3 separate regions of the Homo sapiens genome follow, and regions 2 and 3 are each reported to be linked to region 1. The links are microRNA targets in miRTarBase. Many come from high-throughput screens and were not tested one by one. Region 1 holds a microRNA gene; each other region holds the end of a gene's coding sequence.
What was found. Region 1 holds the annotated microRNA hsa-miR-4252 (GGCCACUGAGUCAGCACCA, at 6,054-6,072, shown strand). A microRNA usually pairs through its seed, bases 2 to 8, with sites in the 3' UTR of a target mRNA and lowers its output. Matches are read on the target gene's strand: a 7mer-m8 pairs with bases 2 to 8, a 7mer-A1 pairs with bases 2 to 7 and ends in A, and an 8mer does both.

Region 1 (10,770 bases):
GACAACAGTTGTCATCCTGACCTCATGCGGAGTGCCTGAGAAGTGCTGGCAGAGCCCTGAGCACAGGCCTGGTGCCTGGTGCACAGCCATTGCTGAACTTTAGGATCCTTCCCTGTACCTGGGAGGACCAGCCACCAGGAGGGTCTATGGCTGGCCTGGAGTGTCCAGGTCCTGCCAAGTATGGGCCAGGCTGGGCACCATTTCTGTTGTGGGGAACACTACCTAGAGGGGAGAGGATGGGTCTTTGGGGAGACCTCTGACTCCCAGACCCCTGCCAGCTCTAGCCCCGACCACAGTGACAGCTGCAGAAAAGTGCTCCCAGACCAAGCCCTTGCCCTTTGCCCCGGCTTTGACCCAAACCCTCTTTGTAGGTCAGAGGCGCCCTGGCGATGATCATATAAATCATGATTTGTTTTCTTTCTCCTGGGAACAAAGATGCTATGGATGAACTGTAACTATTCATCAAGTCACCTCTGATTACACAAAAGAAACATGGGTCGCCCGTGTGGGCTGTGGGAATCTCCGGCGGAGACTGGTGCCAGCTGACTGCCAGCGCCGCCGCAGGGAGTGAGCTGCCCATGGGGCCAGACCCGGGCTGAAGAATGATTCCCGCAGCCCTCCCCACTGCCAGTCATGCCTCCCCAGAGGGAGGCCAGGAAGAGGCTCTCCATCCGAGGATCAGTCCAGCTGCGGCCTGTGACTGCTTTGAATTGAAATTCACCGAGCCTATGGTGGCTCTATGGCTCTCGGTGTCCTCCAGTCAAACTTCCCGGCCTATGTTAAAAGATTCCCGAGTAGGCCTGGCCCAGGGAAGAAATGCAGCCCTGATTTGAGAAAGGTTCTACACCCCAGGCCGTCAGCTAGCATGGAATAGTTCCAGAAGCCTACAGTTGCCTGCAACTCTCCCAGCCTCCCAGGTCTTCCTCCTGGCCCCTAATTAGGCCACATTTGACCCCACCTGAGGCCTCTACACCTCCCCGCATCACTGCCAGTTCCATCAAGGCAGGGCTGCGAGGCCCACCCTCTTTTCATTAGGGTCTCAGCTCTCCTCTCCTCAAAGACACCTGGCTTCCCTGACCCCTCAATTTCAAGAACCATCCCCATCGCTTCCTACCAAACTGCTCATTTCACTACACAGCACTTGTCACTCCTGAATTATCTTGTTCTCCTATTCCTCAGACCCATACACACATGGATAGAAGAATGTATGGCTGACGTGATGACGGGCCGGGCAGTTGGGTGCACCCAGTTGCTTTTTGTTGAATGAATAAATATGAGAAGGGACATCCAGGCCAGGAGTAGGGGATCTCTCTTCACTCATGGCCTCAGGCTGGTAGGGCAGGTTAGGTCCACTTGCCAGACAGGCTTGGGAATGCTCAGAGGGGAGTTTTGTCTAGGGTCACATGCAATGAGCTATAGGCAGAGTGGACAAGTCCCTGGGATTCCATACCCCACTCATTCAGCAGACGTTTACTGGAGTCAGGCTCTGGGCATACAGAGCCGGGAAGACAAAGCCCCTGGCCTCATTAGTCAGGGACAGATGGGATGAAAACACACATCTGTCTGTGTGATGAAGGGCCTGGCTGGAAATTCGGGCATGCAGGGAGTGAAGAGATGGAATGTGTCTCAGGGGTTTCTCCTAGGGGTTAGCTTTTGGTTGTCACGCAGGATGCACACAGAACGCAAAGCCAGGCAACCATAGGGCAGCTGGGAGGCCAGGTGCAGTGGCTCATGCCTGTAATCCCAGCACTTTGGGAGGCCGAGGCGGGCGGATCACCTGAGTTCAGGAGTTGGAGACCAGCCTGGCCAACATGGTGAAACCCCATTTCTACTAATAATACAAAAATTAGCCGGGTGTGGTGCCATATGCACCTATAATCCCAGCTACTCGGTAGGCTAAGGCAGGAGAATCACCTGAACCTGGGAGGTGGAGGTTGCAGTGAGCCGTGCCACTGCACTCCAGCCTGGGCGATAGAGCGAGACTCAAGTCTCAAAGAAAAAGGGCAGCAGGGAACAAGGCCAGTGGGAGAGTGAGTGGGCATCATGGGTGCGGTTGACAATTTCAGCAAGGCTCAGGGTTGGCCTTGCTGAGGTGAGGTCTGGGCAAAGACTTGGAGGAAGGCAGGGTGCAGGCGGGTATCTCTGATCCCTGCAGAGGGATCAGCCTCTGTGAAGGCAGGGGCGCTGGCCTGTTGGATGGGACCACAGCCCGGAGGAGGGATGGCCTCTGGGCCATTGTAAGGAAGTGAGCAGCCTTCCCTGTCAGTGGTCAGAAGCCTGTGATGGGACTTGTTCTTTTTTTTTTTTTTGAAATGGATTCTTGCTCTGTTGCCCAGGCTGGAATGCAGTGGCACAATCTTAGCTCACTGCAACCGCTGCCTCCTGCGTTCAAGTGATTCTCATGCCTCAGCCTCCCAAGTAGCTGGGACTACAGGCAGGAACCACCACACCCGGCTAACTTTTTTTCCTCCTGAGATGGAGTCTTGCTCTGTCGCCCAGGCTGGAGTGCAGCAGCACGATCTTAGTTCACTGCAACCTCCGCCTTCCAGGTTCAAGCAATTCTCCTGCCTCAGCCTCCTAAGTAGCTGGGATTACAGACACCCACCACCATGCCCGGCTAATTTTTGTATTTTTTAGTAGAGATGGGGTTTCACCGTATCGGCCGGGCTGGCCTCAAATTCCTGACCTCGTGATCCGCCCGCCTCAGCTTCCCAAAGTGCTGGGATTACAGGCATGAGCCACTGCACCAGACCAGGACTTGCACTGTCTTTTCTTTTCTTTTTTCTTTTTTTTTGAGATGGAGTCTCACTCTGTTGCCCAGGCTGGAGTGCAGTGGTGCGATCTTGGCTCACTGCAACCTCCGCTTCCCTGGTTCCAGCAATTCTCCTGCCTCAGCCTCCCGAGTAGCTGGGACTACAGGCACGTGCCACCACACCCAGCTAATTTCTGTATTTTTTAGTAGAGACGGGGTTTCTTCATGTTGGCCAGGCTGGTCTTGAACTCCTGACCTCGTGTTCCACCCGCCTCAGCCTCCCAAAGTGCTGGGATTACAGGTGTGAGCCACCGCACCCAGCAGGACTTGTGTTTTCAAAGGCTGCGGGTGGACATGGACGGGTGAAGGCCAGGGCCTTTCAGGCTTACTGGGGACTTCCCCTTTTCCGTTCTGTAGTGCACAGCCTCACAGAGCCTGGCTGCTCCCATGGCCCAGCTGAGCCCAAGGGGTTCAGGTAGCCCCCACGTGAGGCAGAAAGGGGGTTTCTCAGAAGCCCTAGGATGCCCCAGCAGTGTGCTGCTTACAGAGCCCCAGGGTCCAAGGCTCAGCTCTCCCCCTTAGAAGGGTAGGGCAGGGGCACTAGCCCCGGTTAGACGACAGCTGGGACCAGGAGCTGCTGGTGGAGACATGAGATGGTCTCCTGCTGTGAGGGGCTGCTCCGGACTCCACCAGGCCCTTCCTTTCCCAGAGCCTCCACGTAGGTCAGGGGGTCAAGGACAGCAGCCACCTCCTCAGTGCGGACACAGGCCCTGCCCCCACGCCCTGCTGCCAGGTGAACTGACAGACACCAAGGGTAGACCTGGAGCTGGTGATCAAAAAGGAATGAGCCCCCACGGCCTGTGGCAGAATCAGGGGCTTAGTGGGGAAAGGGACCACCCCAGGCACAGCCTCCAGCCTTCTAAGGGGGAGAGTTGAGCCCTGGGCCCTGGGGCTCTCTAAGCTGAGAGCTGCTGGTGCTTCCCAAGAAACTCCCTTTCTGTCCCAGGTGGGGGCTGCCTGAACCCCTGGGCCGTGGGAGCAGCCAGGCTCCATGAAGCCTTGCACAAAGGAAGGGAAAAGGGGAAGTCTCCGGTGGACTTGAAAGGCCCTGAGTGATTAGGACCTGGACCAGGAGTGGGAGAGAGACCCAGAGAGGAGGTACAGCCTGCTCAAGGCCACACAGCAAGCCAGTGGTGACCACAGCTGGTGAATCAGCCTCTCTAAAACACCATTTCTGTACCTGTCAGCTCCACGAGGCAGGGAAGCTTGTCTGGTTCACCAGCATATCACTGGCATTTAGAATATTGCCTGGCACATAGAAGATGCTCAATAAACATTAGTTGAATGAGTCCATCTGTAAAATGGGCTGATTACATAGCTACTGCTCGGGGTGGTTGTGTGGCTCAGATGACACTGGGTGGTGCCAGACCCCTAGAAGATACTCAGCACCAGGTTCTTTTTCTTTTCTTTCTTTTCTTTCCTTCCTTTCTTCCTTTCTTTCGTTCGTTCCTTTTTTTTTTTTTTTTTTTTTTTTTGACAGAATCTTGCTCTGTTGCTCAGGCTGGAATGCAATAGCATGATCTGGGCTCACTGCAACCTCCGCCTCCCTGGTTCAAGTGATTCTCCTGCCTCAGCCTCCCAAGTAGCTGGGATTACAGGCATGGGCCACCTGTACAGGCATAGCCCGGCCACATGCCCAGCTAATTTTTGTATTTTTGGTAGAGACGGGGTTTCACCATGTTGGTCAGGCTGGTTTTGAACTCTTGACCTCAGGTGATCCACCTGCCTCGGCCTCCCAAAGTGCTGGGATTACAGGCATGAGCCACCGTACCCAGCCCCAGGTACTTTCCAATCCCATTCCAGTCTAGTCTGGTCGGGGGTAGGGGAGGCTTTCGGGGAAGGAGGCACCTGCTGAAGTTGATAAAATCTCTGGGCTAACTGGTTTTCCAGCTTGCTGTGACTGGCAGCACCCACGAGCCCAGGGGAAGAGCCTGGAGCCTCCTCACTCCCCAGCCTGGAAGCTTAAGCCTCAGGGTCCCAACTGATCCCCAGCTCCCTGACCCCCACAGCCCTGCCCAGCTGCTCAGGCCCTGGGGCAGCCAGAAGCAGGTGTGAGGGGGACAGAGTGAGCTCCTGGGCTCCAGGACCCTCCTGGGAGGATGGCCACCGGCCTTGGGGCCACCTGCTCTTTGCCCCTCCTCACTCTGCCCTGATTAGGGATCTGGACCCCTTGTTCCCCTCCATCAGCCACTGGAGCTCCTGCCGGGAGGGCCAATCCTCCCAACTCAATCTCCCTGAGACCCAGAGCCTGGGACTTGCCCAGCCCGGCTCCTGCCAGCCCCATGCCTCCCAACTGAGAGATGCCTTTTTTTTTTCTTTTTTTTTCCCCCTTGAGACAGAGTTTCACTCTTGTTGCCCAGGCTGGAGTGCAATGGCTCAATCTTGGCTCACCGCAACCTCCGTCTGCCGGGTTCAAGCGATTCTCCTGCCTCAGCCTCCTGAGTAGCTGGGATTACAGGCATGCGCCACCACGCCTGGCTAATTTTGTATGAGAGATCTCTTTTCTACAAGGGCTCAGAGGGAGGGTCCCGCGTGGCAGCAGCCCCTGAGGTCAGTGTGACAAGTCCTCTGCTTCTGGGAAGACTTGGCCCCATGAACGGGACAGACGGGGAGGTGTGGGGGACGTGCAGGACATTCCTGCAATCTCAAGCGCTTTCTGTTATAACACCCCAAGGTATAGACCTGGAATTAGCTGAGCTTCCCCGAGGCTGTCCAGCCTTCCAGCTCCTCTGCAGCGTGTCACTTCCTCGTCCCGTGGCCACCCACAGCCTCCCTGGCAGGATCGAGTTTCCCACCAGCAGGTCCGGGAGCCCTTCCTCCCTCAGTGCTCACCCACGCGCCAGCGAGAGAGCTGAGCCTTGTGAATAATTCACAACGATTCACAGCAGGCCCCAGAGGCTCACAAGAGCATGAAGCTGGGCCACCTGGGTCCCCTGATGGGGCCCTGTGTCCTGGGGCAGCTCAAGCCTCTGCCCTCCCCAGCTCCCAGCCCTCATATCCACAGCCTTGATGAGCAGGAATCCCTACCCCCAAGGTAGGAGGTTAAGTGGGTACCCCAGCCCCCAACCCCAATTCCCAGCTGCCCCTCCTGCGTGAGCCCAGCCTGGCAACCACACAAAGACACCTTCTTATCAGTCGAGTCACATGCTGCTGTGGGGAACGGAGCCCAAGCCCTCTGTCCACCTCCCTGAGATTCATGGTGACTCCTGGGGGGCTGGCAGCTCATCAGTCCAGGCCATCTGGCCACTGAGTCAGCACCAGCGCCCAATCACACACAGCACCTGGCATGGCCTGGGAGGGGGTCAGGGTCCCCCAGCCCCGGAGCCCTGGAGGGCGTTCCACAGCACAGCCAGTCTTCCTAACACCTGGGATCCAGCCCACGGAGGGATCACGGCTTCTCAGTGAGGAAGGCTCAGGGGCTGGCGGTCCCCACCAGCACTTGCAGAAGGTGGGCTCAGCGTCCTCCAGTTCACACTTGGGCCATATTGGTCCCGCCATCAGGGGCACCTGCCCCTCTCAAGACCTGTCCTTCTCCTCTGCTTGAAGTGAGGGGGTGGGACAGGTGCATCAGAATCACCGCCGTGAGGGTGGGGACATGTCCCAGGTGTGGCTCCCACGCCCCAACCTGGAGAGTCTAACTCAGGAATCTGGGACAGCCTCCAAGAGGTGCTGACAGGAGCCAGTTGGAACCCTCTACTCAAGGGTCCCTGGGGCCCTCCTAGTCTAAATCCCACTGACTTTGACATGATCCAAATCCTAGTTTGTTTGGAAGCAGTGAATTCATACCAAAGCTGCTCTCGTCCTGAGGCTGGGTCCACATTCACATTTACATCTCAGGCTCCCACTTAGACTAATGAGGGTCACCCATCAGAGCACCCCACTCCCCGCTCAGACCCCTGTGGCATCTGGCACCCTACCCTCTCAGACAGGCCCTGGGCAGCTTTCCCCAGGATCCCTGCCTCCCCAGGCGCACCTAACACCTGAGTCCCTCCCTCCCTCCCTCCCTCCCCAAGACTCACACATGCCCCCTGCTCTGTGTGACCCCCCACCCCACCCAGGGGAGCTCCCAGCCCACTCCCCAGGAGGTTTGGGATCCCCATGCTTCCCTTGATAGTAGGAACGGGCTGAGGGGCCACAGGAGATAACAAGATGCTCTCTGGATGGCCTCCAGCCAGGGGCTCTGGGGCCAGGAGGTGGGGTGGGGGTCTGGGAGGGGCCTTTCTCCCTTAACTGCTTGGTAACTGATGGGGTTCCCTTTCTGCCTGTTTGACTAGGGCCTAGGAGGCGCTCCTGCCCTTGCTGCCCCCGACTCCATCCTGAACAGTCTTGCAAATGAGCACAGCCTGAGCCAGAGAGAGCCCCTGCGGCAGAAGCAGCCCAAGGGGAACAGGTGACCTTGGCCTGTGTGCCCAGCCTCCCAGGTCCAGCTGTGTGCGGCCGGGCAGCTGAGGATGCTGGGAGCACCTGCTTGCAGGGCTCTGGGGGCAGCCCCAGAAGGGGTTTTCCAGGAGGGGAAAATTTCATGTTGAGTGGGAGCCATTTCTCTGGCCTGGCCCTCTGGCCCCAGGATGGCCACTGGAGGGATCATTGCCCTGGAGTGCCAGAGAGGCGTGGAAAATCCCAGGCATCCCCCAAAGCCCTGGCCCAGCCCACCCAGAGGACCCCTTAAGAGGGGTGATCTTACTCAGGGTAGTGCTCGACGAGAAGCCTCAGGGAGGGGAAGTCTCCTTTGGCGGCAGCGTAGTGGATAGGCAGGGCGCCCATGTCTGTGGCCGCGGTGGGGTCCCCACCGCCATGATGCAAGAGCCAGTTCACCACCTCGGGGTGGCCGAAGCGGGCAGCCAGATGCAAGACTGTGGCACCAGAATTGTCTTTGTCCTGTGGGAGGAGAGCTGGTTCAAGTCCTAAAGCCTGTTGCTGCCCCGCCCCTGGCTTGGGCCACTCCCAGACTCCCACAGGCCTGGAAGGTAGCTCTGTGCTCTCTGTCTTCCCTGGAGGGATTGGCCAGGCCTCATTCAGCAATGTTTTTTTTGGGTCAAGCGGATCCTGGGTTTGAGTCCTGCTTCTGTCCTTGGGCAACTAACTGGCCCTCTCTGAACCGTAGCCAATAGGCAGCACCGTGCAGGGTTTTCAGAGGCTGCAGGTCCTGACTGCGAGCTGCCTACACGACAGGCACCTGGTTGTCACGGCAGGAGACTGGCACCAGGCCCAGGGCCACAGCCCTGACTCCCAGGGACTCAGGGAATGCCTGAAGGAGTGACACAGGGTTACTGGGCTGAGCAGGGCCAGGAAGGGGGGCTGTGGGGCTGTACCAAGCTAGCATCAGGATTGGGGGTCACCCCCTGCATCCAACACTTGCCCCCGATCTCTCCACCCTTCCTCGGTGTCACGTGGGAACAGAGACCTCCACCTTGGTACGCCTCCAGGAACCCAACCTCAGTGCAGAAAACCGGCCCCTCCCCCAGCAGACTCGCCAGTGCCCAGCCACAGGAGCAGCCTGTGTTCTCGCCCCTGTGGAGGTGGAAGTTGCTGGGTACTGGTGGGCGGGTCCGGGGCAGTCAGCCAGGGGTGCTAGGTGCAGGCTAGTGGTGGCCTCTGGGAGGGCTTGGACAAAACTCCCCCCGGGGACCTCAGAGCAGGTGGGGCCAGAGGTCTGGGCCCAGAACTGCTGAATGTGTCATCAGTGCACACCCCATTGTGTGTGTCTGCTGAGAAAGGGGCTGGAGGGGAGTGCTTACAGGACCTGTGCTGGGAGGAGAATTCCCGGGAACATCTAGACACAGAGGCTGCCGCACTTGGCAGAGTGGGTACTGGTTCGGGAACAGAACCACCTCCCAGCACCAAGCACATAGGATGACAGAGGGGTGGGCAGGGTTCTGGGTGCAGGATGCAGTGGACACACTTCACTAGGATCAGGGAGTAAAGCCTCTCTGCCCCGCCTTGCCCAGAGAGAGGGCACTGTGGTTACAGACTGGCAGAGGCGGCAGGAGCTGGCAAGAGACCCCAGGCCTCAGGAAGTCAAATCACGGTGGGAAGAGAACCTCTGAGGCTCCCGTGAGAAATGCAAGGAAAAGAGGGCACGGAGGGAGCTGGGGGCGCCGGGGCCACTAGTAGGGTCTTCAGGCAGCCTGCGGGGTGGGGGCAATTGTCTGGCTGTCCTGCTAAGGAGGCAGGGAGGAAGATGGGGCAGAGAATGTGATGGCCCATAGGAAGCTGAGGACAACACCGAGGCCCCTCCTGTGTGCTAGAAAGCTGGGAGTGGGGGGGCCAGAGACTGGTTCAGTCTGTCCCCTCCGAGCCCAAAGGTCGGGGCTGGCTAGCGGGCACCCAGGCAGAACCATGGTGAAATGTGACCTAAGCCCCAGCTCCTGAGAAAGGCGCTCCCTTCCTATTGGCCTTGGGGACTGTGGGTCTGAAGCTCCAGGGGTCCCACTGGCTCTGGGCCTCTAAGTGGTGGAAACTGTAAGGAGAGGGCCACAGGCCTGTGGGCTCTGGCCTGTGCCTGTCCAGGCTGTCCAGGTGTCCAGGCCCCAGGAGCCTCGTGCGTGGTGGACCACACCCTAAAGCAGCTTATCTCTCTGGGCTGGGCAAGCCCAAGGATCCAGGTCATCCCCCCCACACTTTCTCCCCCCACACCCAAGCCTGCCCAGCCCAGAGGGCAGGAGACGATAAGCTGGGCCCAAGGCCACCTGCTTCTCCCAGCTCCTCTGCACTGGCCAGAGAGGCTTCTGGCCAGGGCTGGACACTGGATCTGGGAGGCATGCCACCGCCCAAAAGAGTGGGCATGGGCCACTTGGCCAGGAAGCCCTGGTAACAGGGCCCACTGAGAGATAGCAGGTGGGCCATCTCCCAGGAAGGGTGGGAAGAGGGGCTTGCTATCTGAAGGCAGAAGGTGGGGTTGGCCTGGCCATCTTTGGGGCATAGTAAGCCAGTTTAGAGTTACCCTGACTCCTCCCCTTCCATCTCCAGGTCACCCAGTGGTCTAAGTGGAAATCGGTTGTGGTTCCTCCCTCCCATGGCTGCCCCCACACCCAGAATTTCATCCAAATCCCTAACCTCGGCCTATGATACTCTCTGGCCTGGCCCTGGCAGCTTTTCCCTTCCTCACCCACTCTGAACATGATGCCTGAGGCTGGCCCTCCGACAGGACAAGAGCGTGCATGCCTCAGGGCTCTGCACTTCTTGTTCCCTGTGCCTGGAACTGTCCCACCGCTGCCTGGCTACCTGCTTCTCAGCAGCCAGGACTCCCCTTGGAGGTCACTGCTCAGAGTGACCAGGTGGGGTCTGGAGGCAGCAAGAATCAGCCTGGGTTGGAGAAGCAGCTGACAGCTTGACAGCACTGATGTCCTGGGGTCAGCCTGGGTTATGGGGAGACCCCCATTTACCACGGCTCATCACCCTTCCCCCACACCCTGGCTGGGACACCTGAATCTCAGCCTCGGGTGGGCTGTGGGACTTTGCCCAGCCTCCTTTCAGATCCGGTCCTGGAGGACACGGGCGTCTGACTCTGCTGCCCAGGCCTCACGTCCCACCCACTTCCAGGACTACAGGATCAGTGCTTTGCTTCTCCCGGTACACACTAGTAACCACAAGCCCCACGGAGGCCCCTCCCTTCTGGCTCCCATCACCCAGGTGCGCTTCCAGGGAGCACCCAGGCTCGCCAGGGCATCTGCCCCAGTACTGGCAAGCCAGGGAGCCCATTCACTTGAGGGCCTCTGGAAGGAGCTCCGTGCAGGGTTCAGCTGGGCCAGGAGGTGCCAAACCCCACCCATCCTTGAGCCCCGGGGGACTCTGGGCCAGGACTCTGTCCTGAGGAGGAAGCCTCAGTGCCCCTGGCGAACCGCGCGGACCCACCTGCACTCTGCAGCCGCCCTGCGACAGCAGCCACTGCAGGCAGGCGAGGTGGCCGGTGGCGGAGGCGTCGTGGGCCGGTGTGGCGCCGTTGCGGGCGCGGGCCG
Region 2 (10,770 bases), not on the chromosome of region 1:
GGCAAGACTGCATATTCCCAAACCATGAATTTTGAATGTCAGAGATCTTTCTTTTTTTGAGACAGTGTTTCGCCCTTTGTTGCCCATGCTGGAGTACAGTGGTGCGATCTCACTCAGCTCACTGCAGCCTCCGCCTCCTGGGTTCAAGTGATTCTCCTGTCTCAGCCTCCCGAGTACCTGGGATGACAGGTGCCCGCCACCATGCCTGGCTAATTTTTGTATTTTTATTATTTATTTATTTATTTATTTATTTTTGAGACAAAGTCTCTTGTTGCCCAGGCTGGAGTGCAATGGTGCGATCTCGGCTTACCGCAACCTCCGCCTCCGGGTTCAAGCGATACTCCTGCCTCAGCCTCCCGAGTAGCTGGGATTACAGGCATGTGCCACCATACCTGGCTACTTTTATATTTTTAGTAGAGACAGGGTTCCTCTATGTTGGTCAGGCTGGTCTCAAACTCCCGACCTCAAGTAATCCGCCTGCCTCGGCCTCCCAAAGTGCTGGGATTACAGGCGTGAGCCACTGCGCCTGGCCCATTTTTGTATTTTTAGTAGAGTCGGGGTTTTGCTGTGTTGGCCAGGCTGGTCTTGAACTCCTGGAATGTCAGAGATCCTTAACTGATACCAATTATTGGTGTTAAATGGGAATTATGCTTCAGAATGGATTGCTATTAAGTAAATTATAGTACTACATATCAGAAAAAAAGGTAAATTTGAGGTAGAAAATATATAAAGGTCGGATGCAGTGGCTCACACCTGTAATCCCAACACTTTGGGTGGCCAAGGCAGGCGGATCTCTTGGGGTCAGGAGTTCGAGGCTAGCCTGGTTAACATGGTGAACTCCTATCTCTACTAAAAATACAAAAATTAGCTGGGCGTGGTGACGCATGCCTGTAGTCCAGCTACTTGAGAGGCTGAGGAAGGATAATTGCTTGAACCTGGGAGGCAGAGGTTGCAATGAGCTGAGATCGAGCCTCTGCACTCCTGCCTGAACGACAGAGCAAGACTCCGTCTCTAAAAAAAAAAAATAATAATAAATATATATATATAAAACATGACTTAACCACTTGTTTACACAGTTCTGAATTACTTACTGTAAGACCATGGGCCTGTGATCCTGGGCTAGGAATCAAATGAGGCTTTCTGCCATCACTGAGGGCCAAACCTGCTGAATAATGTCTAAAAGAGAAAAATAATCTCAACAAAAAGCATTAAAGCTAATACTGGCCAAAGCACAAGTTATTTCATCCAGTAGAGAGAGGATGGCTCTTAGATGAAAAGGAAGTAGTTCTTCTCAATTTGATTTCTTTTTTTTTGAGACAGAGTCTCTTTCGCCTAGAGTGCAGTGGCGCGATCTTGGCTCACTGCAATCTCTGCCTCCCGGGTTCAAGTGATTCTCCTGCCTCAGCCTCCCAAGTAGCTGGGATTACAGGCGCCTACCACCATGCCTGGCTAATTTTTGTGTTTTTAGTAGAGATGGGGTTTTGCCATGTTGGTCAGGCTGGTCTCGAACTCCTGACCTCAAGCAATCTGCCTGCCTTGGCCTCCCAACGTGCTGGGATTACAGGTGTGAGCCACTGCGCCCAGCCCTAATTTGATTTCTTAAAGACAGAGTGATTTATGTTGTGGTCCTCACTACCTCTGTTTCCAAGTATTCTGAATTTGTGATACATAGAGGGTTTGTGTTGCAGTGCCACTAAAGAAACATGTTACCTTAAAAGTTGTATAATCAAGGCCGGGCGTGGTGGCTCACGTCTGTAATCCCAGCACTTTGGGAGGCCGAGACGCCGAGACGGGCGGATCACAAGGTCAGGAGATCAAGACCATCCTGGCTAACACGGTGAAACCCCGTGTCTACTAAAAATAAAAAAAAAAAATAGCCAGGCTTGGTGGCAGGCGCCTGTAGTCCCAGCTACTTGGGAGGCTGAGGCAGGAGAATGGTGTGAACCCGGGAGGCGGAGCTTGCAGTGAGCCGAGATCCTGTCACTGCACTCCAGCCTGGGCAACAGAGCGAGACTCTGTCTCAAAAAAAAAAAAGTTGTATAATCAAAAGGCTTAACATTTTATCTGATGAGAGTACTGCTGGTAAATTACCCAGAAACCTGTATTTGAAGAATTGCCATATTCTGTCAGAAGTAAGGAGCTATATGGACTGCTTGTTTTGTTTTGTTTTTTTGAGACAGCGTCTTGCTTTATCACCCAGGCTGGAGTGCAGTGGTACCATCTCGGCTCACTGCAACCTTCGCCTCCCAGGTTCAAGCAGTTCTCATCCCTCAGCCACCTAAGTAGCTGGGATTATAGGCATGTGCCACCACACCTGGGCAATTTTTATATTTTTAGTAGAGACAGGGTTTCATCATGTTGGCCAGGCTGGTCTCGAACTCCTGATCTCAAGCAATCCACCTGCCTTGGCTTCCCAAAGTGCTGGGATTACAGGTATGAGCCACCACGCTGAGGCTGGACTGCTTTTTAAAAATTTTATTTTAGACAGTGTCTCGCCCTGTCACCCAGGCTGGAGTGCAGTGGCGTAATCACAGCTCACTGCAGCCTTGCCCTCCTGAGCTCAAGTTATCCTCCTACCTCAGTCTCCTGAGTAGCTGGGACTACAGGTGCATGCCACCATGGCCTGCTAATTTTTAAAAAGTTTTTTGAAGAGACCAGGTCTTCCTATGTTGCCCCGGGCTCAAGTGCTTTTCTCACCTCGGCCTCCCAAAGTGCTGGGATTATAGGTATGAGGCGCTGTGCCTGGGCTGGACTGCTTTTTCCTACTCAGCCATATGTGGTTACTTACAATTTACATTAACATTAATTGGCTTTTTCCACCATAGTCCAAATTTGAGTATCTGCTCCAATAAGGTGGTAATTTTTCTTGTCCACATCTCAGGATAATTCTATTTTGTTTTTTATTATTTATTTATTTTGAGACAGGGTCTCACTCTGTTGCCCAGGCTGGAGTGCAGTGGTTCAATCTCAGCTCACTGCAACCTCCACCTCCCAAGCCCAAGTGATCCTCCCACCTCAGCCTCCCAAGTAGCTGGGACCACAAGCATGCACCACCATGCCTAGCTGATTTTTGTATTTTTTGTAGAGATGGGTTTTGCCATGTTGCCCAGGCTGGTCTCAAACTCCTAGGCTCAAGCGATCCACCTGCCTCAGCCTCCCAAAGTGCTGGGATTACAGGCATGAGCTGCTGCACCTGAGCTTCTCAGGATAATTTTAATTTTTTTTTAATTGATTTGGAATCATGCTTAAGGAACCATGTAGCTAGATTTTTTTTTGTTATACTTGGTATTAGAGGCCCTACTGAGATAATTGAAATTTGTAGCTAAATTTTTATTTGCTCGTTGTTCCAATCCACAGTTCTGGCCAGAGGGGTAATGAGTATTTAAACGGACACAAGGTGAGGAGGGTTAAGACCCCTTCACTTAGATGATCTGGAAACTGGATTGACCAACCTGTGTATAATTGACTTGTGCATAATCAATAGAGCTGAATGTAGGTTTTTTTTTTTTTTTTTTTTGAGACGGAGTCTTGCACTGTTGCTCAGGCTAGAGTGCAGTGGCGCGATCTCAGCTCACTGCAAGCTCCGCCTCCCGGGTTCACGCCATTCTCCTGCCTCAGCCTCCCGAGTAGCTGGGACTACAGGCGCCCGCCACCACGCCCGGCTAATTTTTTGTACTTTTAGTAGAGTCGGGGTTTCACCGTGTGAGCCAGGATGGTCTCGATCTCCTGACCTCGTGATCCACCCGCCTCGGCCTCCCAAAGTGCTGGGATTACAGGTGTGAGCCACCGTGCCCGGCCCCTGAATGTAGGTTTGATTGGGTTCACTCACATGCTCATATTCACAAATAAAAATTTTGGAAGCAGATTAATATTATTTATTATTCATCTTTTTAACCTAAGCCCACCATGGTTTACATCTAAATTCTAGCTACAGACATCTGTTTCTGTATAATATATTAGCTATTAATCCATTTACTTACATTTCTTCTTGAAAATATTGAAAGGGTCCTTTTCACCTTGAAACCAAGGTGAGGAGGAAATCAAGTCAACTAAATCCATATAATGACATAAACGTATGTCTGGACAGATTCTTTCACTCTTCCTCTCCTTTTAAGTCTCATATTCTTTCTCTCCAGGAAAGACACAGATGAAGCTGACCTGGTTCTTGCAAAAGAAGCTAATGTGAAATGTCCACAAATTGTGATAGCATTTTATGAAGAGAGACTGACATGGCATGCATATCCTGAGGATGCGGAAAACAAAGAGAAAGAAACAGCAAAGAGCTAAAGGAGGGGATGGTCTCTGTCATTTCTCTTTGTACATAATACATTCACCTCCCTGCCTCCTCTCCTTTCTACCCACCCCTTTCTATCCTAAACACATCCATAAAAAATGTGCTTATCACTGTGCTCCACAGGAGAAATGTTGGTATTGGTTCTCTTGTAACATAACTGATGGTCTGATTAATGATAAGTGTCTCTCTGTGAAGACCAGGCATTTACATACTGAGTGTAATACCCACAATTTTTTTTTCCTTTGCCCTGATCTCTTCCTTCTGCTTCCCTGTGACCTCAAGATGAGTTTCAACTTTTTAATCACCTTAGAGTCTTGATCTTTTCAGGGTTGGTCGCTTTTTAGGTTGGGGGATTTTGTTACAATGATGTTGAATTTTGGTTTCTTGCTTTGGTTCTTAGAACATGTTGCTGACTAGCTGGCCTTTGTTCTGACATGTTGAGATGGAAAGGATGTTGCCCATCTGTTAAAAAGCCAATAGCAACTGCCTACCTGTTGGGGCTTTCCCAACCTTGTTCAGCTCTACCCAGGAGAATACAGGGTTTCTGGTGTGGTCTTCTGGGCCACCCTCTGTTGTTCATCCTCACTCATCCTCCCAGAATTACTCCATCCTTTGGAAGATTTGAAATTTTACACTGAAATCTGTCAAGACACTCTTTTTAGCCCCAGGACTTTCGGTATTGCTTTTAGCACTCCCCACTTCTGCTTCTGTAAAGTGATATCAATTTGTGATAAAATGACAAGATTATTAACTGTGCAGATTTGTAGCTATAGTACATGAGGATGATGGGGTAGGGTACAATTGTCTTTATTATCATATATGGTATGTATGTATGATTTCTTTCCATTCCTCATATTTAGACTGTATATTTATGTAGGTGTGAGTGATTGCCTGGTGCTTGCTTGTGCCAAGGTGCTAGGCACCCTCCAACCCTGCCAACTTTTGTGGCCTCCCAAAGCATTCCTGTTACCAAAGAGGCTTCAAACCTGACCCTCACTTCTCAGTGGACCCGAGTTTCCCTTCCATGCCATTATTTTCAGTGGGGAAGTTTTAGAGGTGAGCTGTTGGCCACAATATCAATTTTAAGTGTTCATAGCAGTTATGTCTCCTGCATTCTTGGCTCCTGGATTTACCACCAAGAGTCCCCAAAATATTAATGCTCTTCCCTTTTTCTACCCTCAAACTTATAGTTGTATCTTATTTTTTAAAATGAATTTTCATGGCCAGGCACAGTGGCTACCGCCTGTAATCCCAGCACTTTGGGAGGCTGAGGCAGGAGAATTGCTTGAAGCCAGAAGTTTGAGACCAGCCTGGGCAATGTAGTGAGACCCCCTGTCTCTAAAAAATATAAATAAAAATAAAGGCATGTTCCTGAAAGACTGTCACCTTGGAAAGTGACAGGCCCTGGCATTAGCATGTTGACACACCCTTTTCTTCTTACTCAGCAAAATACTTCGTTTTGGTTTCTTCTTGTGTTGCTATTGAGAAATTTGTCTGATCATATCCTTCTGCCTTTGTCCCCCAAGAAATGCCCTACTTTATCCTTTTCTTTTTGTAGTTGAGGAGGGCTAGAGAATCACAATTAAAAGTAAGGAAATAGCAGGGTTTTGAGGATCCTTGTCCCAGCCCCAAAGCTGAGGAAATAAGAATAAATGCTTAATATAGCCTTAATTCTAGAGCGCACCAGCCATGAGGCTGCTTTTCTTGTTGTTTTTGATTTTTAAAACATACAGCTGTCTGGCCAGGAGCATCTACCATTTCTAGATTATTCAGAGTAATGAGGGGAATGGATGGATTGCTCCAGTCCACAGATGAGCCACATAATATGCAAATCATATACCCATTCATAGCATTTGTTAACATTGCTTCCCTGCTCAGCTGCTGATTGAATTCTGTGTGCTTATATAAATTATGTCAAAAATTATACTGCATAATTGAGGTGACAGCTGTTGCTGCAGTGACATGACAGACTGGAACAATGAAGCTTTTGGTTTAAGTCAGCCAGGAAAATCCTTCTGAATGGTAATGTGATTGGGCAAGAGCTCATAAACCATACCTCAAGTGGGTGGGAGTTTTATCTCTATATTCCTTCTCTCTCTGAAGGAATTAAAGGCCTAGATCAAGTGCTGGATAATTGACAATTGCTTGTACTTAATCTGATCGGTATCTAAAAGAAGGAAAGGATGGTCAGGAAACATTTATCATAAATGTAGCCAAGGATATCAATTAGGGTAGACAAGAATAGGACAAAAATAGGCCAGAGCTCCTGAGGAGGTGATATGGGTCTCTTGATTTGCAGAAAATGACAGCCTATCCAAGTGGCCCAGTGTATGCCTCCCAGTAGCAGTGGGCATGTAAACTGCAGCGACCTTATTTTTAAAACCAAAAACCTAGTATGTGGACAAAGAACATGACAATATTTGGTACTGAGATTGGTTCTGAGAAACCTGGGGCATGTGGCTGCTGTGGTTATAGGTAATATTTAAGACATTCATAAAAATCTGATATTCTTTTACCGAAATAACCCCAGTATCATCTACTACTTACCATCTGTTAATAGACTTTACTCTGTCTTTTTTGTCTTCGGTTTATTGTACTGAGTGCCGCCAAAACAACTTTTGTTCTCTTCCTGCCTACCTGCAGCTGGTTCTATAGGAATGTAGGGAGCCAGAGGCCAGTATTGATTTCAGCCCTTAGCACAAAGGAAATCAGATGCCTGCTTCCAGCATTTGTTAGTGTTGAGTAGATGTTCTTGCCCTAGAAGAATTACAGCCTCAAACAGAAACCTGTTTCATGGAGCTTTCTCCCCTCAGAAGAGTTAATAGTTAAGAGCTAAGCACTCTTAAACACCTAAGTCTCAAATGCTAAAAATTTATTTTTCTTGTGTTTAGTCCTCTTTCAAGACATCTTTCTAAGCCTTTCAGTAATCAACATTAAAAGATCTCCCTTTCTTCAGAGTTATAGCACAGCTTTGCCCAGTAGAGGCTACCAAGGACAGCTTAGCAGCCCTTTGATTGCTGGGCTGGGCAGATGGCCTTCAAGTTAAGATCAAATGCCGGGAAAATCAGCCTACATGGGAGCACCCATTTTAAACCTGGAGAGAACCATGATGTTTTCTTCTTCAAATAACAATCTAGTTTTTTTTCCCCCAGTACTAAAATTGTATTGTCTTTCAGACAATATAATTTTTATTTAAAATTGGAACATACTATCTTCATGCTTTCTAAGCTAAATCTTCATTTAGATTTCACTCCTCAGTAGATCCCAGAGAAGAAGCTATATAGGATCCAGATTCAAATTTAACAGTGTCTTCTACTTTTTTAGTTATGTTTTCTATCAACTCCTGCTGCCTTTTCAAATACGGATATTTTTCAGGAGACTCTTCTACTTGTCCACTGACTGTATTTTTTCCTTTTTGATCCGTAGCCCTGGTTAAATGGCTGACATCCTTCCGTGGATGATTCTTGGAGGTAGTCTCAGAATTCCAAAGTGATTGTCTGTCTTCTTCTTGTCTTGATCCTAATGCAGACATTCACCTCTATTATTTATTTATTTTTTTTAGACAGAGTCTCGCTCTGTCACCAGGCTGGAGTGCAGTGGCACAATCTTGGCTTACTGTACCCTCCACCTCCTGGGTTCAAGCGATTCTCCTGCCTCAGCCTCTCGAGTAGCTGGGACTACAGGTGTGTGCCACCATGCCCAGCTAATTTTTGTATTTTTGGTAGAGATGGGGTTTTACCATGTTTGCCAGGATGGTCTCGATTTCCTGACCTTGTGATCTGCCCACCTTGGCCTCCCAAAGTGCTGGAATTACAGGCATGAGCCACCGTGCCTGGCCACCTCTATTAAATTTTTGTGGACAAAAATAAAATTGTCATTATTTGTTTGCTCTCATGGAGCACTTTCAGTAATACAATTTTTTTTAAATTCCAGTTGCCCTCTTTGTTGCTCTGTCCTCTGTAATACCTGACTTTGCTAAAGACTTGAGGGGTGGTTTCAGAGGAGGGTCAGGTGATGGGAAGGCAGGATGAGAAAAGCCCTGGACTTGCATGTTTGAGAAGGCTTCCAACCACATCTTCACTCAGACTCTTGGAATTCCTGTCCCCAAAACAAGCTTCTGTTTTTTGCTCACAATGCTATATTTCTAAATTTTTCCTGAATTACTGAGAAGCAGTCATTAGCTTTGTTAAGTTTGGTTTGGGGACATTGTTGGTATCAAAAATCGAAGTCTTATTCATTTGATGTAGGCCATGAATCATCAATAACTGGTTGCTGGAAAGCTTGACTACCATCCACTGGGGTGCTATTTTGAGAAGGATTTTTGGGTATCTTTATAGTCTGCAATTAGTTGATGATTGCTTTCTAGTTTATCAACTGCATTTATATTTGCTTTTCTGTTCATGGAAAATCCTTTATTTGCTGGGGTTTTTTGTTTGTTTGTTTGTTTTTCCCACTTACAGCAAGTAAAAGTGGTCTGAGGTTATCCTTGTTTTTCTTCGCGGTTTGCCATGTGTGAAAGTAGATTTCCTGCTATTGATATATTCTCATTATAGACAGAATAGTGGAGAACAGTGTTGCCATGGACAAAATCCAGTTTTGGTCCACTCTGGGGAGCATTTGGACCTGTGGTGCTTCTAACAATTAAAAGTCTAGATGGTCCTTGACTGTCCCCCAGCCATACTGCATACTACTTTGTGCATTCTACTTTGTGTCATTAATGAAAGATTGGTTCTGTCCCTGTAACTTAGGCATTTATTATTCTTAACTCTTCATTCCTGTTCTGTAGCCACCCAGCAGTCCATTTTCCCTATGTTCAGGCCAAACCACAGGGCATTGGGGAAGGTTTTTGGGATTTTCTTATTGAGATTTTGTTGAATCTGTAGTTTACCCCAGCTTTCCTAAGGTACAGTGAGGGGTTGGAGGGATCTGTGTTTGGCCCGGGGAGCAATTGTCTCTACCTTAAGGTTCAGTTTTGAGGGCATAAAATACTACTTTGCAATGTCATGAGAACACCGTTAGATCTGAAATGTGGAAATGGTTTCTCACAATTTAAAGGAAAAACCCACTTTGCACCCATGATCCCATCATTTTGGTTGAGATTTTAGAATAAAAAATATAGTGTTGAGATCCGTACTTTTGTAATCAGACCACCAAGCATGCCTGTGGCAAGGCAGAGAGGAAAGGTCTGGAGCCAGTGTATTGCAGTTTCATGCTACCTTTACCTGCTAATCATAAAAATTATGTTTTCAAAAGTAGATGATACTAGCCTTACACCCAAAAACATGTTCTGAATTAGATGCCCCCTCACCCAATTTTTATTAAGCTTTCTAAATTCCAGCCACATTGCTGTACATCAACATTGGTTTCATTCAACAGACATTTTTTTGGCCTGAAGATACAAGGTTCAGAAAGAGGCCATCCCTGCCCTCAAATAACTTTCATACTGGTGTATGATGAACTGACCATTAATAGTTTAAGTGCTTACAAGCTATGTTTCTGTTCAAAAAAAAAATAGTTTGGTATAATAAATGCTATAAACCAATACACATTTCTGACTTGGGGGCAGAGACAGACTGGCTGATGTTGTATAGTTTGTAGCCCTGGAGTAAGAAGTTGACATTAATTTCGGCCTATATGTGGAAAAGACCTATAACATTGGGTGAACTGAGCCAGCTGGCCATAGAACACAAGAACATATTCCAGGAAATAAATATAGCTGGAGGGTTGGAAATGCTGTTATTACTGAGAGAGAAAACAGGTGAGTTGGGATTGAGAACTCCTGATTTTCATCCCTGGTTTAGATTCTTGGCCAAAGTAGTGGTAGAGTTAATCTTTGCTTGTGGAAAGCATTAACTATGTTGCAGATTCAGTTGTGTTACATTATTGTGGGTTCTATAACAACATATTCCTCATGGACACTTTACCAGAGTTGCTCACACCTTTTTCAATTTCTCATCCCTTTTGGAGGAATGAACATGAGACTTAACTGCCTTTAAGCCTAAAACGGACATGCTTTCCAATGACAAGAGATTTTCTAAAGAGAAGTCTTGGAGCACATCTGTTAATACCTGAGCATCTACTCTGAGCAGTGCAGTTTTATTCAATACTGGAGAGAGGGTGATTTCTTTTTTTTTGAGACGGAGTCTTGCTCTGTCTCCCAGGCTGGAGTGCAGTGGCGCAATCTCGGCTCACTGCAAGCTCCACCTCCCGGGTTCACGCCATTCTCCTGCCTCAGCCTCCCGAGGAGCTGGGACTACAGGCGCCGGCCACCACGCCCGGCTAATTTTTTGTATTTTTAGTAGAGACGGGGTTTCACCTTGTTAGCCAGGATGGTCTCAATCTCCTGACCTCATGATCCACCCACCTCGGCCTCCCAGAGTGCTGGGATTACAGGCGTGAGCCACCGCCGGGCCGAGAGGGTGATTTCTAAGCAGAGAATTGTATCAGTTATGTGGAAACCTTTGCCAGAAATACAT
Region 3 (10,770 bases), not on the chromosome of region 1:
CCCAGCTAATTTTTGTATTTTTAGTAGAGGCAAGGTTTCACCAGGTTGGCCAGAATGGTCTCAATTACTTGACTTCGTGATCTGCCCACCTCTGCCTCCCAAAGTGCTGGGATTACAGGTGTGAGCCACCACACCCAGCCAATACCATATTTTTTAGAAGGAGGGTTTTGACTGAGTAATATGATTTTTGGGCTTTTTGCAGCTGGAACATTGTAGCCAAAATCTCCCTTTGCCTCCCTCTCATGAATTTATAACAGATTCGTTATAAAAAGAAGCCCTGATGAATGAGAATGAATCCTATGCATTAGCCCAGAATGACATTAGCCATATTTCTGAACAACTTATTTCCATCCTCATACCCAAAAGGGGATGTTTTTGAGTCCCTTATCTCCATGTCTCTGAATCATTTGTCCACATCTTCTGTTGTGTAAGAATAAAGAGTACATGGGCTGGGCGCAGTGGCTCACACCTGTAATCCCAACACTTTGGGAGCCCAAGGTGAGCAGATCACAAGGTCGGGAGATCGAGACAATCCTGACTAACACGGTGAAACCCCATCTCTACTAAAAATATAAAAAATTAGCCGGGTATGGTGGCATGCACCTGTAGTTCCAGCTACTAGGGAGGCTGAGGCAGGATAATCGCTTGAACCTGGGAAGTGGAGGTTGGCAGTGAGCCAAAATCACACCACTGCACTACAGCCTGGGCGAGAGACCAAGACACTGCCCCCAAAAATAAATAAGTAAAGAAGAAAGAGCACATGGAGAGCATCATTTGTGTGCCAACTTGGGACCATTCAGTCATCCCTCAGCATCCATGGCGGATTGGTTCCTGGACCTGCAGTGGATCCCAGAATCTGAGATGCTCAAGTGTCTCACATAAAATGCTGTAGTATTTGGATCTAACCTATGCACGTCCTCCCCTGCACTTTAAATCATCTCTAGTTTACTTATAATACCAAATGCAATGTAAATAGTTGTTGTACTGTACTATTTAGGGAATAATGACCAGGAAAAAAAAATGTCTGTACATATTCAGCAGATATGCAGCTATCCTTTTTTTCTGAATATTTTCAATCCGTGGTTTGTTGAATGAGGATGCGGAACTCATGGATGCAGAAGACCAGCTGTGCTTAGAAAACATGCCTCATGGCCGGGTGCAGTGGCTTACACCTGTAATCCCAGCACTTTGGGAGGCCGAGGTGGGCGGATCACAAGATCAGGAGATCAAGACCATCCTGGCCATCTGGTGAAACCCCGTCTCTACTCAAAATACAAAAATTAGCTGGGCGTGGTGGTGCAAGCCTGTAGTCCCAGCTACTCGGGAGGCTGAGGCAAGAGAATCGCTTGAACCCAGAAGGCGGAGGTTGCAGTGAGCCGAGATCATGCCACTGCACTCCAGCCTGGCGACAAAGCGAGCCTCCGTCTCAAAAAAAAAAAAAAAAAATGAAAACGTGCCTCATACACTTAATCTAATGGTTTAAGTTAAAATTCTGGTCTTGAGTTCAAGAATCAAACAGAAACTAGATTGTAAATTTATGATTATAAATTATAAAATCTGTATTTGAACAGATGTAAGGATTGTGAACATCTAAGTGTATTATAACTGATTGTCTTTTAAGGCCTTATTTTAGAGCCTCTTTTGGGCTATGGTTATAATACAGATAGCCTGTTAAATCAGTATTTCGGAGTGGATTTTTTGAAGTGAGTGATTTATTTCCTTATTATATTTATTCTATTATTAGATTTAAGAAACAGATGTGATTTTCCAGCTTGATATCTATGTGAGTTCCGTATTCTGCCCGTCTGACAGGACATTTTATTTAATTATATTTAATAAAACCTAACAGAAGGTTATAATTTAAAAATCTTTCCCCTTGGATCTCATAAAACATCAAGTATGGCTCTTATTTAACCATAATCCTTGTCATACTTTATTACCATGATTTAAAATTATTATGGCATTATATAGAGAATATAATGCACTCCAGGTAATTAATTTTTCCCTTTGGACTAATTAAAGGTTGAAAAGCTTCCTTGATTTTAGTAAGCAGTAAATCTGATGAATAATACTATGCCTCAGCCTTTTATTCTTATTCTCTTCTAGGTAACAACATCCATTTTATACACCGCGATAGGAATAGGTTGGATCACAAACCTATCAACTCTGTTTTACAGCTTGTAGGAGTTCAGCATGTGAACTTTACAAACAGACCTTCAGTTATCCATGTGTGACTTAAAATGCACTCAGTCACTTTCAACTGGACCTTCTGGAATGTGACCTTCAATGCCTGGGTGTAATATCCTCGTGCAGTGTCTAACCTGCTGTCCCTTCCCAGCCTTTGAGGAGTTAGGGAAGCATAAAGGGGGCTTGAACCTGTTGAATTGCATGCTGGGAAGCATCAGTTGTCAAAATATGTTATATACTTCCATTTTATAACTTTTAACATTTTATACAAAAAAAATGAATATACAAAATATAACTTTAAAAGCTATAAAATCATAAATACTCTAAATTATTTTACATTATGGTATATTCAGTCAATGAAAGAGTTTTTTGGCAATATAAATTCTGACAGTATATAAGGGGACAGGAGAACAACACAAGACCATTATATTCAGTGAAGAAGGCAAAATATCAAATCTGTCAACAATGTAACTGCATTTTTATATGTATATATTTGTATTTTTGTATGCTTTGGAAAAAGACAGGAAATAAACACCAAAATGTTGCCAGTAGGTATCTCTGTGTTAAGATTAGTGTTATTATTTTCTTTTCTGTACTTTTCTGTATTTCCCAACTGTTATATAATGAGCATGATTAATATTGTAGGGCCAGGAAAAGGTCTTTAAACATTATAGGACAATTTTATGCCACATAACAACCTTCACAAAAGAGCAAAATTATATAAGCTGTAGTCCACTTTTCCATCGTAATTGCTTTACTCAGAGGAAGTGTGGCAATCCGAACATTTCACATATAGCCAGTGTCCACAGCACCTTCTCAAACTACATACTTGCTATCCGTTTCACTAGGATTTTGGGGGGTTGGGGGAGCTATGGAGAAAAAAATTGTTTTAGATATTTAAGATATGTATTTAAAAATATGGTCAGTGTGCTTTTTGAAAGGGAACTATAAGAATTTTTTTTTTTTTTTTTTTTGAGATGGAGTCTCACTCTGTTGCCCAGGCTGGAGTGCAGTGGCATGATCTCGGCTCACTGCAAGTTCCGCCTCCCGGGTTCACGCCATTCTCCTGCCTCAGCCTCCCGAGTAGCTGGGACTACAGGCACCCACCACCACGCCCGGCTAATTTTTTGTATTTTTATTAGAGACGGGGTTTCACTGTGTTATAACAGCCAGGATGGTCTTGACCTCCTGACCTCATGATCCGCCCACCTCGGCCTCCCAATGTGTTGGGATTACAGGTATGAGCCACCTTGCCTGGCTTTTTTTTTTTTTTTTTTTTTTTTTTTTTTGAGATGGAGTCTTGCTCTGTCGCCCAGGCTGGAGTGCAATGGCTCAATCTCAGCTCACTGCAACTTCCGCCTCCTTGGTTCAAGCAATTCTGCCTCAGCCTCCCAAGTAGCTGGGATTACAGGCACCCGCCACCATACCTGGCTACTTTTAGTAGAGACGGGGTTCCACCATGTTGGCCAGGCTGGTCTCGAACTCCATACCTCAGGTGATCCGTCTGCCTCGGCCTCCCAAAGTGCTAGAATTGCAGGCGTTAGCCACCATTCCCGGCCAAGAATTGTTAAAATTTTTTAAAACTTGGTAACTTAAATGTACACTATGGTTTAGTTATGCATTCCTAGAGAACTGCTATTTCTCACCCTCAAACTGCTCTTATTTGGGAGACTTGTTATCTTTCATTTTTCTAGAATTTTTTTTTTTTTTTTGAGACGGAGTTTCACTCTTGTTGCACAGGATGGAGTGCAATGGCACGATCTCGGCTCACTGCAACCTCCACCTCCCGGGTTCAAGTGATTCTCCTGCCTCAGCCTCCTGAGTAGCTGAGATTACAGGCATGCGCCACCATGCCTGGCTAAGTTTCTATTTTTTAGTAAAGATGGAGTTTCTCCATGTCGGTCAGGCTGGTCTCGAACTCCCGACCTCAGGTGATCTGCCTGCCTCAGCCTCCCAAAGTGCTAGGATTATAGGCATGAGCCACCGCGCCCGGCCTATTTTTCTAGAATCTTAATATGTTTAGTTGGGAGGTGTCCCAGAAATCCTGATGAAAAGTATAGCAAAATCAGAATTTTGGTAATGATTAGCAAGTATAATACTGCTTTGAACTCAGTACTTTTATATGAAGCATATAAAGTTACAAAAAAAACTAATGTATTCAAATATTTGAATATATCTTCATGTTTGTATAATGTTTTTATTCAATAAAAATGAAATTTCTCATTTAAACTATTTTGTGCTTTTTTTATATACTAAAGGTGACCTTTGCTGATTTTAGACTTCATACTGCTGAATCACATGCTTACACAAAAATTATATACAGTTGACCCTTGAACAACATAGGTTCTACACGGGTCCAGTTATATGTAGATTTTTTTTTCAATTGAAGTTATACCAAGTGTGGGCCGGGTACGGTGGCTCACGCCTGTAATCCCAGCACTTTGGGAGGCCGAGGCTGGCGGATCACGAGGTCAGGAGACGGAGACCATCCTGGCTAACGCGGTGAAACCCCCGTCTCTACTGAAAATACAAAAAATTAGCGGGACGTGGTGGAGGGCGCCTGTAATCCCAGCTGCTCCGGAGGCTGAGGCAGGAGAATGGCGTGAACCCGTGAACCCGGGAGGCGGAGCTTGCAGGGAGCCGAGATGGTGCCACTGCACTCCAGCCTGGGAGACAGTTATACCAAGTGTGCCTGGCTCCCCTGTCACCTCTTCCGCCTCTGCCTCACTTGAGACAGCAAAACCAACCCCTCCTCCTCCTCCTCCTGCTCCTTAGCCTACTCCAGGTGAAGATGAGAATGAAGACCTTTTTTTTTTTCCTTTCTCAGCACATCGTGTCCACTACCAAGAAGGAATTATAAGGCATATGAAAAGACAAAAAACAATTTGAAAAGACAGAACGAGCACTAGAACCAGATTCAGATATTGCAAGAATGTTGGAATTAATCAGACCAATTTTTTTTTAAACTATGATTAATGTGCTCAAGACTTTAAAGGAGAAACACAACATCCAAGAACAAATGAGTAATGTAAGCAGAGAGATGGAAAGTCTAAGAATCAAAAGAAATGCTAGAAGTTAACAACATTGGAATAGAAATGAAGAATGCCTTTGATGGGATTATTAGTAGACTGGATGTGGCTGAGGAAATAATCTCTGAGCTTGAGGATATGACACTAGAAACTGAAAAGCAAAGGCAAAAAATACAAAACAAAATCCAAGAACTGAGAGACAACTACAAAAGACATAACATGAATCATGGGAAATCATAAGAAAGAAACTAACAGAAGAAATATTAGAAGCAATAAAGACTGAAAATTTCCCCAAGTTAATGTCAAACATCAGACTGTAGATTCAAGAAATTCAGAAAACAGCAAGCATAGTAAATGCCAAAAAAAAAGACACCTAGGCATATCGTAGTCAAACTTCAGAAAATCAAAGATAAAAAATCTTGGCTGGGCGCAGTGGCTCACACCTGTAATCCCAGCACTTTGGGAGGCCAAGGCAGGCAGATCACTTGAGGTCAGGAGTTCGAGCCCAGCCTGGCCAACATGGTAAAACCACATTTCTACTAAAAATACAAAAATTAGCTGGGTGTGGTGGCACATGCCTGTAATTCCAGCACTTTGGGAGGCTGAGGCGAACAGATCACCTGAGGTCAGGGGTGATCAGCTTGGCCAGCTTGGCCAACATGGTGAAACCCCATCTCTATCAAAAATACAAAACTTAGTTGGGCACGGTGGTGTGTTCCTGTAATCCCCACTACTTGAGGGTGAGACACGAGAATCACTTGAACCCGGAGGCAGAGGTTGCAAGGAGCCAAGATTGCACCACTGCACTCCAGCCTGAGTGACAGCATGAGACTCTGTATCAAAAAAAAAAAAAAGAAAAGAAAATTTGAAAGAAGGCAGAGGGAAATAAACCACCTTACCTATAGAAGAGCAAAAATAAGAATTACATCCAACTTCCCCTCAGAAACCATGCAAGCAAGAAGAGAGTGGAGTGAAATATTTAAACTGTTAAGAGGAAAGTCACCAATCTAGAATTCAGTACTCTGCAAAATTATCCTTCAATAACTTTCTAACAGGAGGAAAAAAATTATCCTGTGAAGGATAACTAAAGACATTCTTCAGACAAAAAATGAGGGACATTGTTGCCAGTAGACCTGTCATGCAAGAAATTTAAAAGAAGTTTCTCAGAAAGAAGGAAAGTGATACAGATTAGAAACTCAGATCTACATTAAAAAAAGGAAGGGCATTGGAAAATAAGTGAGTGAAGGTAAAATACTTTTCTTTTTCTTTTTTTTTTTTGAGACAGAGTTTTCCTCTTGTCACCCAGGCTGGAGTGCAATGGCGCGATCTTGGCTCACTGCAACCTCCTTCTCCCAGATTCAGGCGATTCCCCTGCCTCAACCTCCTGAGTAGCTGGTATTACAGGTGACTGCCACCAAAACTGGCTAATTTTTGTATTTTTAGTAGAGACAGGGTTTCACCATGTTTGCCAGGCTGGTCTCGAACTCCTGACCTCAGGTGATCTGCCCACCTCTGCCTCCCAAAATGCTGGGATTACAGGGGTAAGCTACCACGCCTGGCCTTATTTTTCTTATTCTTAGTTGATCTTACAGATAACAGTTCAAAATAATAATACCAACAATGTATGTGTGTTTATGTGTGCTTATGTATGTATATATATTTATATATAGATATGCTTACATATGCTTATATATAAGTGAATGACACTTACATATAAATGAATAACAGCAAAGATACAAGAGACAAGATGAGGGAATTAGAAATATTTTGTTATTGCCGGGCACGGTGGCTCATGGTGAAACCCTATTTCTACTACAAATACAAAAAATTAGCTGGGCATGGTGGCGGGTGCCTGTAACCCTAGCTACTCAGGAGGCTGAGGCCAGAGAATCGCTTGAACCCGGGAGGCGGAGGTTGCAGTGAGCCGAGATCGTGCCATTGCACTCCAGCCTAGCCAATAAGAGCGAAACTCTGTCTCAAAAAAAAAAAGTATATGAATGGAGAAAGATTTAATGTGCTAACACAAATAAAAAGAAAGTGGGAATAGTTATAGTGCTCTCAGACAAAGCTAAGTTCAGAGCAAGGAAAGTTATCAGGGATGAAGGGAGCTATTACATAAGGATGAAGGGGTCAGGAGTCAGTTCCTACTGAAGACATAGTAATTCTCGATGTGTATGTTCCTGACAACAAAGTAAAACCTGATAGAACTGCAAAGAGAAATAGATGAATCCACTGTTATAGGTGGAGATTTCAACACCCCTCTATCAGAAATGGATAGGTCCAGCAGGCAGAAAATCAGTAAGCACATAGTTGAACTCAACAGCACCATCACTAAACTGGATATAATTGACATTTCCAGATTACTTCATCCAATAGCAGAATAGCACACATTCTTCTCAAGCTCACATGCAACATGCACCAAGATAGACTGCATTCTGTACCCTAAAACACACCTTAACAAATGTAAAATAATAGAACTCATAGCATGCCTGCTCCCAGACCACAACGGAATTATACTCAAAAGCAATAACTGGAAAAATCCCCAAATACTTGGAGATTAAAAACATACTTCTAAATAACACATGAATCAAAGAAAAAAAAATCTCAGTGGGGCATGGCAGCTCACGCCTGTAATCCCAGCACTTTGGAAGCCTGAGGCAGGCAGATCACTTGAGGCCAGGAGTTTGAGACCAGCCTGGCCAACAGGCAAAACCCTGTCTCTACTAAGAATACAAAAATTAGCTGGGTTTGGTGGCACACAGCTGTAATCCCAGCTGCTTGGGAGGCTGAGGCAAGATAATGGCTTGAACCAGGGAGGCAGGGGTTGCAGTAAGCTGAGATCACGCCATTGCACTCCAGCCTGGGTGACAGAGCAAAACTGTCACAAGGAAAAAAAAAGAAAATGAAGACCTTTATGATGCTCTGCTTCCACTTAATGAATAGAAAATATATTTTCTCTTCCTTGTGATTTTCATAATAGCATTTTCTTTTCTCTAGCTTACTTTATTGTAAGAATATAAGTATGTAATAAATATCACATATAAAATATGTTATTGACAGTTTATGTTATTGGTAAGGCTTCTGGTCAAAAATAGACTATTACTAGTTAAGTTTTTGGGAGGCCCAAAGCTATATGCAGATTTTTGACTGTGTAAGGGATTGGCACCCCTACCCCCAACATTGTTTAAGGGTCAATTGTATTTATAAATGTGCACCACATTTTTCTAAGATAAATACATGTTCTTTATGTGGCTTCAGGGAGGTACAGGTACATAAGTGTAGTGCAATGGCAAATTGCCTACCCAAACACATTTTTTAAATATAAAATTACCTATAACATGTACTGTTAACTTTATAAACATACTTCCATATCCAGTCATATACTGGACTTGAAATTCTGAAGAACCTCTCTCACAAATACATGGAGACATTGGATAAAAATAAATAATATCATCAAACATTTTATGGTGGTAATGATTTGTTAGGTACTATTCCAAGTGCTTTACATACATTAACTCTATGGAACTGATATTGTTATCATCACCATCACCATTTTGCAGAGAAGAAGCAACAACTTTTTTCAAGCTGAGCTTACAACAAAGTGAAGAAATGCCACTAGGGCCGAAAGCGAGCAGAAGCTAGGCTGAAGAGCATGCTTGGAAGCCATGGACTGCACTGCAGAGCAGGAATTCATCCCAGGAATTAGAGAAGGTTATTCTTTGGCCAATTCAAAGGTCTGGGACAGTAGAGAATTAAAACTAAGGCTCTAGAGTAAAGTAGGACCTAAGACCTGTGCCTGAGACTGGAAACTTTTGAAGGGCTAAAACCTTGTAAGAATAAGGTCAAATCCATCCACATCCAAGGAATCTAGTGAGGAAATTCATTGTATGGCTTGTGTGATGAACTGCTATGGAAACAAGAATTTCAATAAAATGAAAATGCATGGTTTCATTTTTAAAATCAAATATTTTGTTGTTTTTCAAGAAAACTGATGATACACTAGCAACCTGCATAAAATGTTTGTTCACATTACCATTTACAATGGGGGGCAAAGAGGTATCACTGACTACATGAAAACTGGAAGACACATTTTCCGAAGAAGTAACATCATTTACTTCAAAGTTAATGGCTATTTTAAAAAGAGTGTTCCAGAAGGTAATTTAAGATATGAAGTTGAAGAATGTACATAGACACATCATTCTGTGAAGAATGATTTTTCATTTAAATCAAGGAGGTTTTTTTTTGTTTTGTTTTTTGTTTGCTTTTCTCACTCTGTTGCCCAGGCTGGAGTGCAGTGGTGCAATCTCGGCTCACTGCAACCTCACCTCCTGGGTTCAAGCAATTCTCATGCTTCAGCCGCCCAAGTAGCTGGGATTACAGGTGTGTGCCACCACACCCGGCTAATTTTTGTATTTTTAGTATAGATGGGATTCTACCATGTTGGCCAGGCTGGTCTCAAACTCCTGACCTTAAAGGGATCTGCTCACCTCGGCCTCCCAAAGTGCTGGGATCACAGGTGTGAGCCACTGTGCCAAGCCAAAGAGGTTTTTCTAATTAATTCCAATCTTTTTCAAGTCAAGTTTTCTTATGGACATACTAAAAATGAAGTGTAGTAGCTGTTCCTATACTGGTTCTGTTAGAAACTTCTGAAAAAAGTTACAGGCTGCCAGTTTTATGTCAGTATTACCAAATGCTTTAAATAGAGAATTTGATTACATTCATTTCTTTTTAAAAAAGGAGCTAATAGTTACCTTTTCTCATCCAGTTTACAAAGTCAAAGCAAAATGTTTGGAAGCGTATTCTCTCAAAGGTGAAACATCTGACATTATTGTGAATGCTACTCTAAATTCAACTTAAAAATTCACATGGTTGGGCATGGTGGTACATACCTATAATCCCAGCTACTCGGGAAGCTGAGGCAGGAAGACTGCCTGAAGCCTGAAGCCTGGAAGTGAGGCTACAGTGAGCTGTGATCGTATCACTGCACTCCAGCCTGGGGCAACAAAGGGAGACGCGCGTGCGCGTGTGTGTGTGTGTGTGTGTGTGTGTGTGTATGTTTGGGGTTTCATTTTTTGAGATGGAGTCTTGCTCTGTTGCCCAGGCTGGAGCACAGTGGCATGATCTTGGCTCACTGCAACCTCCACCTCCCGGGTTCAAGCAACTCTCCTGCCTCAGCCTCCACAGTAGGTGGGATTACAGGCGCCAGCCACCACATCCTGCTAATTTTTGTAATTTTTAGTAGAGATGGGGTTTCACCATGTTGGTCAGGCTGGTCTTGAACTCCTGACCTCAGGTGATCTGCCTGCCTCGGGCTCCCAAAGTGCTGAGATTACAGGTGTGAACCACCATGCCCAGCATATATATATATGCATATATATAATGCATTTATATATGCATTATATATATATAATGCACATAACTACAAAAAAGATTAATACCAAAAATATATCGGAATGTCTACAAGTCAATTTTTTAAAACAAGACAACATAATAGGATAAATGGGCAATACAGACAAAACATTGCAAAGTTAGAGGGTACAATGCACAACCCACC

Region 2: miRTarBase lists CBX5 as a target of hsa-miR-4252. Seed matches in the 3' UTR shown: 7mer-m8 at 5,525-5,531, 8mer at 7,889-7,896 and 7mer-m8 at 10,465-10,471.
Region 3: the mRNA of PRXL2C is a reported target of hsa-miR-4252. Seed matches in the 3' UTR shown: 8mer at 3,198-3,205.

What each region holds. Positions count from the first base shown.
Region 1 is chr1:6,425,146-6,435,915 of GRCh38, reverse strand. MIR4252 (microRNA 4252) reads left to right here and starts at 6,020; the gene lies at 6,020-6,082. It overlaps ESPN (espin), which reads right to left. Exons shown (of 13, transcript NM_031475.3): 1 at 10,667-10,770; 2 at 7,497-7,690. RefSeq lists an enhancer at 7,239-7,358.
Region 2 is chr12:54,235,272-54,246,041 of GRCh38, reverse strand. It overlaps CBX5 (chromobox 5), which reads left to right. Exons shown (of 5, transcript NM_012117.3): 5 at 4,137-10,770. The coding sequence ends at 4,287. Among named protein-coding and RNA genes, the nearest start is that of MIR3198-2, 9.2 kb to the right of the region's middle.
Region 3 is chr9:96,633,223-96,643,992 of GRCh38, reverse strand. PRXL2C (peroxiredoxin like 2C) reads left to right here. Exons shown (of 6, transcript NM_153698.2): 6 at 2,107-4,416. The coding sequence ends at 2,234. Among named protein-coding and RNA genes, the nearest start is that of PRXL2C, 17 kb to the left of the region's middle.